Linked DNA regions of Homo sapiens. The protein of the gene in region 2 interacts with the protein of the main gene of each other region in a biochemical or structural test. Each region holds a gene or a part of one and is shown on either strand. Other genes may lie near its edges.

The links. Proteins that work in one complex are often made in the same cells at the same time.
Region 1: of the proteins of PRKAA1 (region 2) and RACK1, one has a biochemical effect on the other in vitro, tested with the Homo sapiens proteins (2 studies listed by BioGRID).
Region 3: the proteins of PRKAA1 (region 2) and MAGEA3 form a complex in vitro, tested with the Homo sapiens proteins (one study listed by BioGRID).

What each region holds. Positions count from the first base shown.
Region 1 is NC_000005.10:181,236,396-181,240,938, forward strand, and holds the end of RACK1 (small ribosomal subunit protein RACK1), read right to left. Parts: intron 3,188-4,543; coding exon 3,092-3,187; intron 2,783-3,091; coding exon 2,672-2,782; intron 1,845-2,671; coding exon 1,704-1,844; intron 1,325-1,703; coding exon 1,214-1,324; intron 648-1,213; coding exon 582-647; 3' UTR 502-581; downstream 1-501. UniProt on the Homo sapiens protein: Scaffolding protein involved in the recruitment, assembly and/or regulation of a variety of signaling molecules. Interacts with a wide variety of proteins and plays a role in many cellular processes.
Region 2 is NC_000005.10:40,767,342-40,774,374, reverse strand, and holds part of PRKAA1 (5'-AMP-activated protein kinase catalytic subunit alpha-1), read left to right. Parts: intron 1-2,511; coding exon 2,512-2,656; intron 2,657-4,871; coding exon 4,872-4,959; intron 4,960-5,437; coding exon of another isoform or gene 5,438-5,492; exon of another isoform or gene 5,493-5,939; intron 5,940-6,684; coding exon 6,685-6,909; intron 6,910-7,033. UniProt on the Homo sapiens protein: Catalytic subunit of AMP-activated protein kinase (AMPK), an energy sensor protein kinase that plays a key role in regulating cellular energy metabolism.
Region 3 is NC_000023.11:152,694,752-152,701,794, reverse strand, and holds the start of MAGEA3 (melanoma-associated antigen 3), read right to left. Parts: upstream 3,002-7,043; 5' UTR 2,966-3,001; exon of another isoform or gene 2,721-2,965; intron 2,590-2,720; exon of another isoform or gene 2,531-2,589; intron 2,490-2,530; exon of another isoform or gene 2,007-2,489; intron 1,238-2,006; exon of another isoform or gene 1,174-1,237; 5' UTR 1,108-1,173; intron 1,028-1,107; 5' UTR 963-1,027; coding exon 18-962; 3' UTR 1-17. UniProt on the Homo sapiens protein: Activator of ubiquitin ligase activity of RING-type zinc finger-containing E3 ubiquitin-protein ligases that acts as a repressor of autophagy. May enhance ubiquitin ligase activity of TRIM28 and stimulate p53/TP53 ubiquitination by TRIM28.

The sequences.
Region 1 (4,543 bases), about 140 Mb from region 2:
TGACCTGAGGAATAAATTAGTTTTGAATTAAGTTCTTCTGGTGAGAACTGCCTTGCTTAAAGAATTAAAAACCCTTGACTTTCCTCAAAGACCATGTTGACAGAGACTGCTAACATGAAGCTTAAGTTTTCTGAATTATGTTCAAATCTTTAGAGGAATGAGGATTCATCTTCCACTCTTACGTGTCAGGGGTTGGACCTGCGGAGTCTGCTTTTTCTAAAAATTGACTGCAACCACTTTGAAATCAGTTCTTTCCCTCAAGAAGGTTCCCCAGGTTGAAGGTAGGCCCTGATGATCTGCACGTGGTATGTAGGACGCTGATGGGGTTTAAGTTCAGGGAAACTGCTATGTGACTTCTCACAAACATCCCACCTGATGCTACCCCAATCCTGAGAACTTAGACGGACAGCTCCCCTTCAAAGCCTTGTTTACTTAGTCCATACCTTGCATCCAGTTCGCTAGTGCAAACTTAATGTGTAAGCAATGTAGATAGAATGGAGCTTTTTTGCATATAAGAAAAAAAAACCTAAAAGTCAGAAAAGCCAGTTTTTTTTTTATTTGTAAAGCTCTGCCATAAACTTCTAGCGTGTGCCAATGGTCACCTGCCACACTCGCACCAGGTTGTCCGTGTAGCCAGCAAACAGAGTCTGCAGGGAAGAAATGACAGTGACAGGTCAGGCTGGCATAAATTCTGCAGTCTCACTAGATTCAGCCCAAGTGGCTTTTTTTGAGATCCGTCCACCTTGCTCCATTGTCTAGGCTGGAGTGCAGGGGTGCGATCCTGGCTCACTACAGCCTTAAGCCCCTGCAGTTCAAGAGATCCTCCCACCTCAGCCTCCAGTAGGCATGTGCCACAACGCCGGGTAGACTGTAAGAAACCGCTCTCATTTCAACAGCCAGCTTGTAAGTGGTGGTTATGTATTCCTTGAGGAAGAAACAGCTGGTGATAAGGCTCCAGACATTTGAAAACTGGTCAGATTAATTAAGGTATTAATTGAAGGCTGACAGCCACTGCGTTCCACATCAGTCTTCCCTCTGATGCAGAAACACATTCACTGGCATGGCAAACGAGGGCATCCTCATCAACCTGGCTTGTCATTTCACTTTATGCCAAGGACACTGCTCTTGTGTCTGACAGACTAGATATACTAACAGAATGAGAGGGAGAAAATTAACTGGAAGCAGAATCACCTGAGAGGACAGACCCACTTACCTGGCCATCAGCAGACCAGGCCAGGGAGGTGCACTGGGGTGGTTCTGCCTTGCTGCTGGTACTGATAACTTCTTGCTTCAGTTCATCTACAATGATCTTTCCCTCTAAATCCTGGGGAACAGGGCAAAAGCAACCTTAAGACTTACCAATCAAGAGAGTCTCCTCTTAAAAGCCCCTCAAGATTCTCAAGTTAAAAAGGGATGATTTTGCTCCCTGGGGTCCATGTATCAATGCCTACATGCATTTTCAGTTGCCACTAGTGGAAGGATGGTTTGCTACTGACATCTAGTAGAAGCTGGAAATGCTGCTAAACATCCTGGAATGTACAGGACTGCACACCACAACAGAGTTACTCAGACCAAAATGTCATTACGTGGAGGCTGAGAAAGCTTAGCTCCCAGGTGGGAGTCAGATGGCATATATAATAACCAAAACATTGCCAGGGCTCAGAGTGCAGCCAGGTACCCAGTCAATTGTAACCCACACTCACCCAGATCTTGATGCTGGGGCCTGTGGCAGCACACAGCCAGTAGCGGTTAGGGCTGAAGCACAGGGCGTTGATGATGTCCCCACCATCTAGCGTGTAAAGGTGTTTGCCTTCGTTGAGATCCCATAACATGGCCTGGCCATCCTGGACACAGGTAAGGTAAATCAGGACACTGTGACCTCTTCCAGATGTTAATTCTGCCCATCTCAAGATTCTGTCAGAATCAATTCTTACCTTTCCTCCATTACCCCAGGCTTCTTTGAAAGCTAATGACTCAAGTACCAATATTTATCTCTGTATACCTTTCCTTTAACGTAAGACCTTACCAACCCCATCAAAAAACCCCTCCCAACTTACATAAATCACTCCAATCATTTCTGAAAACCAGGATCCCAATCTCATCAACTGCTTCAAGAAACCAACTTTAGGCTGGGTGCGGTGGCTCATGCCTGTAATCCCAGCACTTTGGGAAGCCGAGGTGGGCGGATCACCTGAGGTCAGGAGTTCAAGACCAGCCTGGCCAACATGGTAAAATCCTCTCTACTAACATACAAAAATTACCCAGGAGTGATGGCGGGTGCCTGTAATCCTAGCTACTCGGGAGGCTGAGATGGGAGAATTGCTTGAACCCGGGAGATGGTTGCAGTGAGCCGAGATCGCGCCACTGCACTCCAGCCTTGGCAGCCGAGTGAGACTCCGTCTCAAAAAAAAAACAAAAAACAAACAAACAAAAAAACAACAAAAAAAACCCACAGGCTTATAGAAAATCATCTTTTTCTTCCAGATAGTATGCCTTAACTGTCATTTGCTGAAAGTAATCTTTGGAAACATATTCTCAGATTGCCATTATCTCATTATCCTCCTAAAACCATCTTGGCTAATGTTTGCCATTTTACGTTAGAGACGCTGGCTAAGTGCTCCTTCCATGACGCTGTCTTCCACTGAGTAGGAGACGCCTTGTCCCCAAATACCTTGCCTCCAGAAGCACAGAGGGATCCATCTGGAGAGACAGTCACCGTGTTCAGATAGCCTGTGTGGCCAATGTGGTTGGTCTTCAGCTTGCAGTTAGCCAGGTTCCATACCTGCATAGACGTGCGGTTGACAGGTGAACATCCTAGCTCTTGATGAGCTAGGGTCAGGCCCAACAAAAAAGGGCTTGGCACTTCTGGATACGGTAGCCATTTCTCATTCAGTAACATGTCCTGGCCACTTCACGTTAGATTATAACACATATCCAATGCAGTGTGCTGACTTACAAGGGACATCAGACCATGTGACAAGAGAAAGAGTCAACTGAGGGCATCTGCAAAGCTTTCCACAGGACTTGGAGTGTATGACCACCTGGGAGCACACCCTGACTGGTAAAGCCCCTGCCTTGGCTTGACGCTCACCTTGACCAGCTTGTCCCAGCCACAGGAGACGATGATAGGGTTGCTGCTGTTGGGCGAGAAGCGGACACAAGACACCCACTCTGAGTGGCTCTCATCCTACAGAAGATGGAAAGGAAATTAGGGCAAACAGTCCTATCCCATGAAATGCTAGACCTCCCAGCCCTACCCCTCAGTAGGATGATGGCTGGCAGCACCTTTCAAAAACCAAGAACCCAAACCTTTAAGCTCAATAGAATCCCTTTAGATTCCAGACAAGAAAATTTTTTAAAAATTTAGAGATGGTGGCTGGACGCAGAAGCTCACGCCTCTAATCCCAGGGAGGGCGAGGTAAGTGGATCACCTGAGGTCAGGAGTTTGAGACCAGCCTGGCCAAAATGGTGAAACCCTGTCTCTACCAAAAATACAAAAATTAACCAGGTGTGGCGGCGGGTGCCTGTAATCCCAGCTACTGGGGAGGCTCAGGCAGGAACACTGCTTAAACCCAGGAAGCGAAGGGTGCAATGAGCCAAGATTGTGCCATTGCACTCCAGCCTGGGCAACGAACAAGTGAAACTTCATCTCCAAAAAAAATATAATAATAATAATAGGGCCTGGTGTGGTGGCTCACGCCTGTAATCCCAGCACTTTAGGAAGCCAAGGTGGATGGATCATGAGGTCAGGAGATCAAGACCATCTTGGCTAACATGGTGAAACCCTGTCTCTACTAAAAATACAAAAAATTAGCCAGACCTGATGGCAGGCGCCTGTAGTCCCAGCGACTCGGGAGGCTGAGGCAGGAGAATGGCGTGAACCCGGGAAGCAGAGCTTGCAGTGAGCCGAGATCGCACTACTGCACTCCAGCCTGGGCGACAGAATGAGACTGTCTCAAAACAAAACAAAATAGTAGTGATAAGGCCGGGCACGGTGACTCACGCCTGTTATCACAGCAGTTTGGGAGGCTGAGGCGGGCGGATCACCTGAGGTCAGGAGTTTGAGACCAGCCTGGCCAACATGGTGAAACCCCATCTCTACTAAAAATACAAAAATTAGCTGGGCATGATGGCACACGCCTGTAATCTTCTCAGACACCCAACCATCGGCTTCTGAGCTGCGGCAACTCCCTTTCACCTTTTCACCGCCCCCCACCCATCCCCAAATCCCCGATCCAGCCCCCAATCTGCGATCCCAAATCTGCGATCTAGCCCAGAATCCATCTCAAAAAAGAAAAAAAATAAATAAAATTTTGTTTAAATAGATGGGGTCTCACTATGTTGGCCAGGCTGCTCTCCTGTCCTCAAGCAGTCCTCCCACCTTGGCCTACCAGAGAGCTAGGATTACAGGCGTGAGCCCAGCCCAGACAAGACTTTAAAAAGGCAAAGAAAGCGGGGGACGGTGGCTCACGCTTATAATCCCAGCACTTTGGGAGGCTGAGGCGGGCAGATCACCTGAGGTTGGGAGTTCAAGACCAGCCTG
Region 2 (7,033 bases):
CATTTTTTTAGTCTGCTGTTATTTGCCTCACAGATATAATAACCTAGTCTGAGGATGGCATTTTAAAAAAAGTCTTCCTCTGTTCCGTCTTGTTCTGTACCTTCTGTGCTCTCTGCATTCATTTTATTCATTTTTGTCTTTGATGCATGGCCCTTCTTCAGATATTTGGTGATTCTTGGCTGTCCACTAAATATTTAAGAATAGGGTATTAAATGCCAGGCTCATGTGGGTAGGACTTACTGATTGCTGGGTTTTCTCATAGCTTGAATAGGTAGGGACTTGTCTGTTTTATTACTGTATACCAAATGCTAATAATAACAAATATGTTTTCTTGGATCAGATATTTGCTCCAGAAGAAACCTTCCCATTTCCTTAAAGGCCTTAGCTTAGCTGCCAGTGCTCCAGGAGCTGAGTGGAGAAAAGAGATGCAAGTCTCACTAGTTAGTATGTTGACTTTGTCTTAGCCCCCATGTTTTCCTTAGGATGCCTTATCCCTGCCTTGGTGTCCTTGAGAGCAGAGCTGGTTCAGCCTTACTAGAGTAAATTATAGGTCTTATTCCCCAATATGGGTGAGTTTAAAAGCTTCTTACTTCAAGCACTTGTCCTGTTTTCAGCTCATCTCTCACTTCTACCTTGAGCAGTTCCCTGTGTTTCCAATTTCTAAGGCTTCCCAGGCTTTGTATGCAGATGTTTATTTTTTACTGGTTTCTACCCCTATAGGCTTAGGTTTTAGCTTTCTCTTGTAGGCTTAGTCTTTATTACTGTTTATCTATTGTCATCCTTGGTGACTCCTCTTGATTACTGCTGTCTCTTTTGTTCTTTTTGTCTTTATATGCCTGTTTTATTGCTGATGTCATTTTAGTGATGTTTCAAGAGTTGGAGACAAAAGATTTAATCTGTTACATTTAATTGGAAATGTATTTTGACTTTTCTAACCTTCCTTTATAGACATCCCTTTCTCCATCCTTTGTAATTGTACTTGTTACTAATACAGTATAATTTTCATTTTTGTAGCCTGTCTATTTTACTTTTTATATTTTGTTTAATCAAGTTTTCTCCTATTTTTTCATATTTGAACAGATACTCTTTTTTTTCCCCATGAACCTACAAATCTAGAAATAAAAGTATTAGAATGCTAAAGGATTAGTATTTTTCTAGAGGAATGGTATCTTATAATAGTTTCTTGTTTCAAAATAAATTACTGATTTGTATTTTCTCCCATATTATCCATGCCCTTTAAGGTGTAAGTCTGGTTTTAGAATGCTAATTTGTGACCTGTGTTAGAGAATTGCATATTGGAGTCCTTCGCCTAGAGGATTAATAGCTTATTTATTAAATATGACTTCTTGGGAGCAGGCATGTCCAAGTAATGGCTGTCACTTATGTTGAAAAAAGTGGTAATAATATATGGATACATAGAGAAGTTTAAAAAAAATACTTCAGGCTGCATGCAGTGGCACATGTCTGTAATCTCAGCACTTTGGGATGCTGAAGCGGTAGATTGCCTGAGCTCAGGAGTTCGAGACCAGCCTGGGCAACATGGCAAAGTCCTGTCTCTATCAGAAATACAAAAATTAGTGGGCGTGGTGGCATGTGCCTGTGGTCCCAACTACTTAGGAGGCTGGGGTGGGAGGATTGCGGGACCCCAGGGAAGCCGAGGCTGCAGTGAGCCGTGATGGCATCACTGCACTCCAGCCTGGATGACAGAACGAGACTGGATCTCAAAATATAGATAAATTTAAAACCCCGCCCCCCCAAAAAAACACAAAAAACAAAAATGAAAAGGTAGTTGCTATGTAAGATTTTTTTTTTAGCAAGCATATTAAAGATAAAATGCTATGATATTTTATTAAATGAATTAAGGTGTTTGTTGTTAAAATGTCTTCTATTTTAGGACATATAGCAACATAGTTGCTTGCTGGTTTATGAATAGTGCTTAAATATTACTTCCTCATGGTCTAAAATAGTGTCCCTCACCCCACTATCACTCACTGCACCTATATTTTGCTTTATTTTTCTTCAAAACAGTATCACTCCTTCTGACTATATTTATTAGTCTATTTTCATCAACTAGATTAGCCTTTGTTTTATTCATTGCTGTGTAATGAGTGTCTAAAGCAATGTGTAGCACGTTGAAGGTATTCAGTAATTTGTTAAAAGAATGAAAGAGTAAACATTTGCCGCTTATAAAAGGAAATATGCCAAATTTCAAGTAGATATTGAAATTATTTGAAATAACTCATGAGATATAGAGGAAGGCAAGCTGTTACAATGTAGTCATATGCAAATGATAATATTAGAAACTTGAGTTACTGATTTGGGTTCCAAGACCATCTTAGCATTTCTGTTTTGTGCTGCAGGTATCTCCTCCTCATGTCAAAAGTATCTCATAAGTGAAGTTCATTGGGAAGATTTTCATGTATTTTGACAATTTTATAGGTTGGAGAATTATAGATAGGACAATTTACTTTGAAAGACACACCTTTAAAAAGCCTCTCTAACTTTTCTTAGCTGGATGAAAAAGAAAGTCGGCGTCTGTTCCAACAGATCCTTTCTGGTGTGGATTATTGTCACAGGCATATGGTGGTCCATAGAGATTTGAAACCTGAAAATGTCCTGCTTGATGCACACATGAATGCAAAGATAGCTGATTTTGGTAAGGATAATTTTATAGTTTCTTAACGTTCATTTCTAATGTTCTTATAGTTTCAATGAACCTACCTAGAATTCTTCAGATAACTGTAAAAGATTACATAAAGTAATAGACTGAGTATATCAAAGTATTCTGTTTTGTCTATGAAGATACAAAAAGAAGAAAAGCTAAGAAATCATCTTTTCTTAGCTTTAAATGTCTTTATTACTATTATTTTATAGAGGCAGGGTTTCGCTTTGTCGCCCAGGCTGGAGGGCAGCGACGTGATCATAGCTCACTGCATCCCCAAACTACTGGGCCAGGTGACCCTCCTGCCTCAGCCTCCTGAGTAGCTGGGACTGCAGGCGTGCACTACCATGCCAGGCTGTTTTGTCTTTTTGTAGAGACAAGTTCTCACTATGTTGTCCAGGCTGCTCTTGAACTCCTGGCCTCAAGTGATCTTCCTACCACAGCTTCCCAAAGTATTGGGATTACAGGTGTGCACCACTGCACCTGGCTCTTTAAATATCTTTAAAATTAAATTTTAAACAACTTAAGTTGGTAGTATTAGAGAGACTATTTGAAAAGAGTATTATTTGTGAAAGAGAAGGTAGCAGCTTTATTTCCAGTATGTTCAAAAGAATCAAGTATGGAGAAGAAGGAAAGTGAGTGGGATGGAATTATTTAAAACCTTAAAAACCAGAAGTGAACTATGTGAATTTAATTATTTAAAATTATTTAAAACAATTTTTTAATTAAAAAAATTTATTTAAAAATTTAAAAATGTTTTAAATGATAGTAAATTATAATTTGTTTAAAGAACATTTTGATTGTTAAAAATGAATTTATTTTGGCTGGGCGTGGTGGCTTATACCTGTAATCCCAGCATTTTGGGAGGCCGAGGCGGGCGGATCACCTGAGGTCAGGAGTTCGAGCCCAGCCTGGCCAACATGGTGAAAACCCATCTCTACTAAAAATACAAAATTAGCTGGGCATGGTGGTGCGTGCCTATAGTCCCCACTACCCTGGAGGCTGAGGCAGGAGAATTGCTGGAACCCAGGAGGTGGAGGTTGTAGTGAGTTGAGATCGCCTGTCCGGCCTGGGCGACGGAGTGAGACACGGTCTCAAAAAAAAAAAAAAAAAAAAAGAATTTATTTTTTCTGTATTTCCTATATAAATTGCCATTGACCTTACTAAACCTAAGAGAAAAAGGAATCTCTTCTTTTCTTTAGGTTGGTTTTAGTTCAAATCAGATAACTTTTTTTTGTTTGTTTTTTGTTTTGAGACAGAGTTTCACTCTGTCACCCAGGCTGGAGTGGTACGATCTCGGCTCACTGCAACCTCTGCCTTCCAGGCTCAAGTAATTCTCCCACCTTGGCCTCCCAAGTAGCTGGGACCACAGATGTGGGCCACCACATGCAGCTATGTTTTTTTTAATTTTTGGTGGAGATGGGGAATCACTATGTTGGCCAGGCCGGACTCGAACTCCTGAGCTGAAGTGATCCGCCTGTCTTGGCCTCCCAAAGTGCTGGGATTACAGGCGTGAGCCACCATGTCTGGCCCAGAGAACATTCTTATAAAAATTTTCCTCAGTTTTGACTACATCTATGTATCTATATCTATAACTATATCTATTTAAATGTTCAGAGATTAACTGGAAAATGCCAACCAAACCTGAGCTGGTTGTTTTGGTGTTTTGTTTTTTTTTAAAATAGTAATTGGCTAAATTATTTGAATTTCTTATTCCTCAGTTGATTATTTTTATAGGGTGCATTTTTGAGGGAGCAACAGTTTCTTTTTGGAGTAAAACTGTGAGGGAACTTTGAAATTCAAAATTACTGTTTTTTTTTTTTTTTTTTTTTTTAAAGAATCAGAACAGGCTTAATAGGAACTTTGAATTTTAATCCTTCTATTCATCTGTTATAGATTATTTTCCCTAGTGATTTCTGTATTAATAAAACTTAAACATGGCAAGTTTTTTCTAATAAGCAAAATAACCAACAGCTTAATATATTTGTATTAAACTCTAACAGTGCACTAACTTTAAATGTTGAAATAGATTACACATTTTAGGGCATAATGGCAGAATATTTGGCTACAATAGACCATAGGATTTTGTTGAAGCAAATAACAAAATGATGATTTATCATTTTAATGCAAACTCAATTTTATTGTTTAATGGGATTTTAATTTTTGTCTTTGGGAAATCTTTTGAGTAGCTGATTTTGTGCACTTTCAGGTCTTTCAAACATGATGTCAGATGGTGAATTTTTAAGAACAAGTTGTGGCTCACCCAACTATGCTGCACCAGAAGTAATTTCAGGAAGGTAGTATTTGATACCCTGCCTCCCTCAATACATTTGAAATTGTCTTTTTCTCCTAGATTTTGTTAGTCTATAGTGTCATATTTAATTCTAATGAAAGGAAAGAAAGATAAGGCTTATTCTTAACCACATTTATATGTGAATGAGGGTTAAGGACTACAAGTCAACATTATATTAAAGTTGTTAGAAGAGAGTACATTAATTTTTTTCCCAGGTGGAAGAAATGGAAAGTTTAAAACTAGGGTGTTTAAAAAGTAGGTAAGACACTGGAAACTTGAATAATACAGAAATATCTAGTAGTTAGAAAAGGATTACTATTTACTTAGAGGAAAAATTAAACATGTAATGTGTAGCTTTAATTTTTTACATAGATGGCATTTTGTAGTACCTTTATGTTTCATGATAAAATGTCTTGGGGAACTGGGCTGAAGTAATCTTTAGACTTCATTTATGTTGAATCTTTGTTCTTTAAACCTTTTAGAGACTGCAATATTATAAGAATTTTAACCTCTCAATTTACTAACTACCAGCATTGAGAACATGAAGATATTTGTACAGTGTCGCTTTTTGAATAGTTTGGAAAACAGGAGAATTTAATATTTTTAAGAATAACTCTTTGTCCTTCACTATACTACTGAAATTGAAAACAGAAGCTGAAGTTTGCTAGATTTATAATGAACTTTTAATAACTTTTCACCCAAACCATGCTTATTTGTGTGAATGTTTTGCATCTTGATTAACTCAATGCAGAAATACTGTAGTATTTTCTATTTTTATAAGCTTGTTGGCCTAGACTGCTCAAAGAAATGAGATTTGTGTAAAAATATGGCTGTGAGTAAGGCAGGAGTACCTAATTTTAGATTTGTCAAGTTTCATCTTTTTTTTAAATATTAACTTAATGTCAAAAATTATTTAAAAAATTTTTAAAAAAATGGTGTTGTCTATCTTAATTCTTTTAGGAATAAAACAATTCAGGACATGGAGACTGTGGAAAGTTGTTATTTAAATAAATAAAAAGAAATGTTATAACTGTGCATATATGCAATGGGCTATTACTGAAATTTAATTTTTCTAGTTTGGATAAAGTCTTTCTTCAAGCTCTTGGTGTATGAGAACTTTTACTTTCAAAATAATATTTATCGATCAGTTCAGCAGTACATAAATTTAAAGAAATCCTTTTCCTGAATCCAGGCTTTGAATGGGTGATCTAACTAGTCTGCAGCTAGTTAAGGCACTTGACTACAATGCACTGCAAACGGGATTTAAAAACTCTGTGAACCAATTTGCCTGGCTTTCTTTCACAGCCTCAGGATCCTTTCACCTTGGTGTAAGGGGTCTTGTGTTATTGGGATTGTGGGCTCAGAGTCCATTACTAAAGAACATTCTCAGTTGATGAAATATCACTTAATCTCTCCTCTGTAACAAAAACCAATGGTTTTAAATTGAATAGTGATATGTTTGTTCAAGATTTGGCCCTATTGTCAGATCCCATCAGGGCCATAGTAAATAGTAGAACAGAATTTTAGCCATGGTGTGTAATTTACAAACTTCTTGACTTTTGTTTTCAAAGATAATACTGATGGAATTAACGTTGTAACATGTAGTAGTGGCTATAAAAACCATATTCTGCTTAAGAATTCTTTATGAAATATCCATATTTGAAGTTTTTGATGAACTGAATCTTAGGTTAAAATGATTCTTTAATCCAATTGTTATTTCCTGTTACAGATTGTATGCAGGCCCAGAGGTAGATATATGGAGCAGTGGGGTTATTCTCTATGCTTTATTATGTGGAACCCTTCCATTTGATGATGACCATGTGCCAACTCTTTTTAAGAAGATATGTGATGGGATCTTCTATACCCCTCAATATTTAAATCCTTCTGTGATTAGCCTTTTGAAACATATGCTGCAGGTGGATCCCATGAAGAGGGCCACAATCAAAGATATCAGGTAATAAAGCAGTTTGGAAGTTATCAGATCTGATAGTATCCATGATAAAAGTTATGTGAAAAAAAAAAAGTTGCAGAACAGAATATACAGTGTAATCCTGTTTTTATGTGAAAAAAATAGAGTG
Region 3 (7,043 bases), on a different chromosome or scaffold from region 2:
GCAACTCGTGCTCAGACTCACTCTTCCCCCTCTCTCAAAACCCACTCATGCAGGGGTGGGTAGGAAATGTGAGGTCCTCCACTGATCTTTACCATATGGTGCAGGACTTTCACATAGCTGGTTTCAACGAGGGCCCTTGGACCCCACAGGAATTCATAACATGCAGGATCACTGCCGGGGACCTGCCGGTACTCCAGGTAGTTTTCCTGCACGAAATGTTGGGTGAGCAGCTTCTTGGGATCCCCCAAGATACTGTCTTCCCTCCCCTCAAACACCTCTAACACACTCAGCTCCTCCCAGATTTTCTCCTCAGGGGCACAGTCGCCCTCTCTTGCGATTATGGCCAGGACGATTATCAGGAGGCCTGCCTTGGGCATGATCTGATTGTCACCCAGCAGGCCATCGTAGGAGAGGCCCAGGCAGGTGGCAAAGATGTACAAGTGGCCGATGGGGTCCACTTCCATCAGCTCGATGCCAAAGACCAGCTGCAAGGAACTGGAAGCTTTGCTGAAGATCACAGGAAAGAAATACTGCCAATTTCCGACGACACTCCCCAGCATTTCTGCCTTTGTGACCGGCTCCCTGGCTCGATACTTGAGGAGCAGAAAATGAACCAACTCGGCCACCTTCCTACTGAGTGCTGCTTGGAACTCGGACTCCAGGTCAGGGAAGGTGCTTGGCCCCTCCTCTTCTTGGTTGCTGGAGTCCTCATAGGATTGGCTCCAGAGAGGGTAGTTCATGGTAGTGGGGAGGCTGGAGGCTCCCTGAGGACTCTGGGGAGGATCTGGTGACTCGGCAGCAGGCACCTCCCCCAGGGTGACTTCAACTAGAGTAGAAGAGGAGGAGGCAGCCTCCTGCTCCTCAGTAGCAGGAGCCTGCGCACCCACCAGGCCCAGGGCCTCTCCTCGGGCCTCAAGGCCTTCTTCAGGCTTGCAGTGCTGACTCCTCTGCTCAAGAGGCATGATGACTCTGGTCAGGGCAACAGGCGGGAGTGTGGGCAGGAGCTGGGCAATGGAGACCCACTGGCCTGGGGAGAGAGGGAGCATGTGAGAGACCTCAGCTGAGTACTGAATGGAACCTTGGAGGCTCTAACAAAGGCTTACTTACAGATCTTCTCCTTCAGTGCTCCTCCGGGGGCCTCTGGTCCTCCAGGTCAGCCTGTCCCCTCAGAACCTGAAGGAGGAAGTGAGAGGGCACCTCAGGGTACATCCGGCCAGCGCATGCTGAGGCTGCAGGACTGAAAGTATTGAGGGTGAGGCCAGGCGCTCTGGAGTCCATGTGTTCTGGGGCAGGTGGGGCCCTTGGTTTGAATCCAAGGCAAACCTTCACCGTTGGCACTATCTGAGCCCCCTCTACTCTGTGACCTGAGGACACTGCCTCAGACCAAGTCCTCACTGCCTTGTTCCTGGAGCTCCTGATTCCTGGGAGAGGAATCCACGGGCCCCCAATGTGCAGACAGCAAACGCAGCCACGGATTCCCAGAACTGTCAGGAGGGTTGGCCAGACTCTGTGAGGTCCCCACTCTACTGGGGTGGAGGATCCCCTCTGTGCTCACTCAGGGCCCTCACCTTTCTCCTTATAGGGCCTAATCCCTCCCTTCTGCTGGCCTGAGAATCTCTCATGTCAAGAACTCACATACCTGATATGGTACAGAAAAACATGAGGGGACCCACATCTGGCCATACATTCCCAGGTCCTCCCGGAAAGGACAACGAGAGATGTCCAAATTTATTGAAGTCCATGTACCCTGGGTGAGGAGACTGCTTGGTCCTCACCTCCACTCCTAGTAGGGTCTGAGAGCCTCCCTCTACTGCCCTGAGTGCAGCCCCCTCAGACCAAGGCTTCCCCTTCCCTGACATCAGTGATCCTAGGATAATGGAGGGACCTCAGCTGACAGCCCTGCCCAGGCTCTCTGAGGTAACAGCAGGAGCAGGGCAGATTTTTATGGGGCCCCCAGTCCGCATTCTGTCCCAGGGGTACCCTCAATCCTCCCTCAGTCTCTTCACCTGGATGCTTGGCAGATCCTAGGACCACTGCATCTGTCCACCACATAGGGGCCCCTTGGGGGTACACCTTGGGCCCTGCAGATCCTGGGATTCCTCCCTCTGCTGACCTGAAGTCCCACTCTTCAGACCACAGCCCTCAACTCTCTGGTCACCCTGAAGGCGCAATGAGCACAGAGCACATTTGGCCACTGTGCCCAGCATCCCCCAGCCCAAGGTTGCCACTGATCTGGACTCCAAGGTCCCCTCAGTCCTCCCTCTTCTTCCTCCCCATGACTCCTCGCAGGGCTGGGCCCCAACCCCCTGCTGAAGTGGGTCTGCATCCCTAGGATTCCCGTAGCCGAATGAAAAGGTGCCTCGGTTTGAGACAGGGGTACAGTGGGCCCCCTGTCCTGGCATGCTGGGTCCCCTCAGGACTCCACTGTCTTCCAGGAGGGCCTGGGCCCTTTCGCTGCCTCCCAACGGCCATACTCGCGATACCGAACCCCTTCCCTCCCTTAGCCGTAGATGTGAACCTCAGGACTCACGTGCCTGGCCGCCATTCCCGGAGCTTCCGTGACTTGATACCAGGGGCAAAGCCCGGATTCTGCCAGGATAGGGGTGGGGGTGGGGATGGGAATGGGGAATGGGGGATGGGGGTGGGGTTGGTGTTGGGGGACGGGAATGGTGGTGAGGGTGGTGGTTAGGCTGCCCTCAGTTCCCTCTCGGGGTCCTGACCTTGATTCCTGCCACAGCGTGGGCCCTGACCTCTTCTAACCAGCCCTGCCCTGGCCACATTAAGCTCTGTCCCCAGAGTTCCCCGTGGCTAAAGCGGCGGGGGTCGGCGGGGTGAGGTAGTGGCGACCCAGCCTGGAAGTCTTCCCCTGCGGGGTGGCCCAGGCCCGGCAGCAGAGGCAGCACTGGATTATTTGAGGCCCTCTGTCTGAGGTGAGGCCCGCCTCAGTCCTCCCTCAGCGTCTTACCTTGCCTCCTCACCGAGCCTGGGCCGGCTTCCCTCCGCCGACGTCAGGCCGTCGCTCGTTGCTCAGGGCGAGAATCTCGCGGTCTTCTGACCTCCAATGCGCAAGTCAGTGGCGTCACATCCTGGCAACGGTACTACCCTGGGTTCCGGGCAGGGGTGGAACTGGATTCTGCCTGGATGGGGATCGGATGGGGGTGGAGGTAAGCATGAAGATGGTGATGGGGCAAGGGGTAAGGATTGGGACGGGGGTCCTGAGGCTGTAGATCCTGGTGGGGTCGGGGGAGTTGGGGGTGGGTGGGCGGGGCCTTCGGTCATCCCTCAGGGTCCTGAAGTTGATGCCTGGCTGAGCCTGGACCGCCATCCTCTGCAGATTGCTTCTGCTCCCCTCAGACCAAGTCTCTGACTCTGAGTCCCCCTGAAGTGGCATTGGGGGAAGGGGTGTGGTCTGGGTGACATCACTGCCTGCGTTTACCAGGGCTGACAAGAGGGGCTGAGCTGGATTCTGTGGTCCCTCTATGGTGTGTGGGGTGGGGGGGCGGTGTGGACCCTCAGTCCTCACTCAGGAGGGTCGTCTTCGTCACCTCTGGCTGTTGGATGAAGTGATGGGCAGGAGATGCTCTGTTTCTGTCACCTGTGAGCATTTGCACAGCTGCACCCCTTGTAGAGAATGCCTGCGGGTCCCAGGCCAGGTGCTCCCTGCAGGGCGGGGCGGCAGCTCCCGCGGTTGTAGTGACCTCCTATTTCAGTCTTTGTGTTCTGTTGAAAGAATTTTTTTTTTTTAAAAATGTAATTCCTCTGCCACTATGGTGGTTTCAGGTTGTTATTAGCAGAACTCTGGAGTCATACTGCCTTAACCAACCAAATTTTCCTGGTGTCCTGCTATTACCTAGGGCTCTTGGCATCGTGTTTTCAGAGGCTGCCTCAGATTGTGCAAAGAAGTGAAGTGGAAAATTTCAAACTTTTATTCTACCCATTCTGTCATCTACCGTGTAGGCCGGCTACAAACCTCCCCAACATCCCTGCTGCTAACCCCCTCCAACCAACACTGCAAGTGTCAAACACAAGTACCAGCTCAACACAGCCTTGAGTCTCACCCTGGGCTTTCCCTGTTTTGTTGCGTAGATTTTGTTGCTGATACTGGTTTTTTATTTACTGTTTCCATTCTGTAATTTTCCAGGTTTGATTTGGGAAGCAGAGCACAGCAGCCCAAATTTGTTGTAATGGCGGCGGCTACAGGTAAGGCACTAAATTGTAAATAATTTAAGCTGAGTTTACATTTTTACAGTGTTGTGCTCCCCATGAATGAATATGTTATACTCCTCTATGTATTTCAAGCTTTTTTTTACCTGAATATGTCAGTATACTTCGACAGTTGTCTCTATAAAGACCTTATACATTTTTATTAGACTTCTTTTCAGGCAATTCATGAATTTTGTTGCTATTGCAAATGGCATATTGTCTATTAATTGTTGTAGTTAGTTATTGCTTTCGTGAGGTGAAGATTTTGATTTTGCTGTAGTAATCTGTTGCACTCCTCGTTCTGAAGGCCGATGCACTTGAATATTCCACATACCTTTTCCTTTGAATTTTCAAGATCGATAATGGTATTATCACTAAACATTACATATTCTTCCAGTATTCATACCACTTACTCATTTTGGTACTTATAGCTCTTTGTGTCTCAATCCTGATTTCAATCGTAGAGATAATAGCCTACATCTACTTCTCGTTCCTGACGTGAATGATAATTATTCGAACGTTTTGCATTTAAGTATGTTTGCTGTTGATTTTAGGAAGTGCAATTTCTCTTTGAATATAGGTTAAATACTTTTTTTTTTTTTACCATGAACTCATATTAAATTTCTTTAAAAAGCTTTTTCTGTACCCGTTGACACAATCAAATTTTTTTCTCCTCCATTTTGTATGTAAGGAATTACAATGAAACCGTTTTTTTTTTTTCCCCTAATGTTAAACCGTATGTTATTTCCTTGGGCAGAGCCTGTTTATTTAATATGCTAGTAATTTACGTAGGATATTTGCTGCTATGTAAGGGAGCTTACTTAATGTGTGCTTTTTTTCCCATCAAGGGTGGGATGTGGTCCTCATCTGGTTTTTGAATCCAGGAGGGCTAGTCTGGAAGAATGAATTGAACAATTGTAAATATTTTGTATGTTCTAGAAGAGATGAGATAAGATGGTGGTTAGTTTTCCCTGATCATTTGGTAGAATTGGCCTCCAATACTGCCTAACCTGGAATGTTTGAAGGTGGCTTGAGCTTTGAACATTGTACAGTTTCAGTTTTTATAGTTTAATTAAAGTTTTCTTTTTCTTTTTGGATCAGTTTGGTTACTGGTTTATTTTATTTCTACAAAGTGGTCAGTTTCATTTAGGATTTCACTTTTAATGGCATATTTATTATAAAAAAAGTTTTACTAGGGAAAGCCTTCACACATACAGAATAATAGGAACTAATGTAATGAACCCAGGATACTAGATACCCAGCATGAACAACTTTAAATACACAGCAAATCTGGTTCCAGTTAGACACTTGCCTACCTGCACATCAGCTTCTGGAATAACGTGGAGCGAATCTAAGGCATTAGACCATTTCATCTCGAAATAACTCAATATGCATTTTTAAAAGATAAGGACGTTTTATTAAACAGAATCCCAATAGTTTTCATATCTGAAAAATTATATAAATGATTATCAAATATTCAACTATTTTACATGCTTATCTGGCCGACTTATACTTTATAAAAAACATATTTCTTTGATGGAGTACCCAAATATGGTAACTTTCCCGCCACTTGCTTCACTGTAGTGGTTTCATACATGTATAATACAGCTAGGTTTGTGTGTGTGTGTAACATTCTACATTCTGTCCCATGATTCTCCAACTTCTTAAGTTACTTTTAGACTTTACATACATTAAGCTTCACTCTTTGTGCTGTAAAGATCTATGGGTTTTGACAAATGCCTCGTGCCGTTGTCTTAGTCCCTTTGGGCTTCCATAACAAAAATAGTGTAGACTGGGTGGCTTATAAACAACACAACTTTATTTCTCACATTCTAGAGGTTGGGAAGTCCAAGATCAAGGTGCTGGCAGATTTCATGTCTGATGGAGACCTGCTCCCTAGTTCATAGACAGTTGCCTTTCCCCTATGTCCTCACATGGAAGAAGGGGCAAGGGATCTCTGTGGAGTCTATTTTATAAAAACACTGATCCCATTCATGAGGACTCTGCTCTCATGAACTAGTCATTCTCCAAATACCCCACCTTCTACCTAATACCATCACCTTGGTATTTCAGCAGATGAAGTTTGTGGGAACACAAATATTCAGATGAAAGCAAGCATGCATCCACCATTACAGTATTACCATACTAGTTTCACTGCCCTGATAAATCCCCTGTGCTTGTCAGATAACCCCCTTGGCTGCCACTGATAGGTGTTTCATCTTTATAATTTTGCCTTTTCCTGAATGTCATATAAATAGACTCGCATACTATGTAGCCTTTTTAGACTGGTTTCTTTCACCTAGCATAATGAACTGAAGAGTCATGTATAACTTTGTGTGGCTCAGAACTTATTCCTTTTCATTGAGGAGTAGTAGTATCATTGTCTGGTTGTACCATAGTGCGTGTGTATATATATATCCATCCACCAAATGAAATACATTTTGGATGCTTCTATTTTTGGTGATTATGAAATAATCTTTTGTATACAATCGTATACAAATTTTTATGTAGACGTAAGTTTTCACGTCAATTGGGTAAATTGATTATGACTGCTGAATCTTATGCTGTGTTCAGTTTTTTAAGAAAACGCCAAATTGTCTTCCAAAGTGGCTGTACCATGTTGCATTTCCACCAGCAATGAATGAGAGTTTCTGTTGCTCCACATCTTCCCTGGCAATTGATCTTGGTTTTCTTTTCTTTTTTTTTTTTTTTTTGCTTTTTTATGGATTTTGGACATTCTAATAGGTGTGTAGTGGTATCTCATTTTAGTACACAGTTATCTAATGAGAACGGATTCTCAGTACTTTTTTATGCTTATTTGCCATGTGTATATCTTCTTT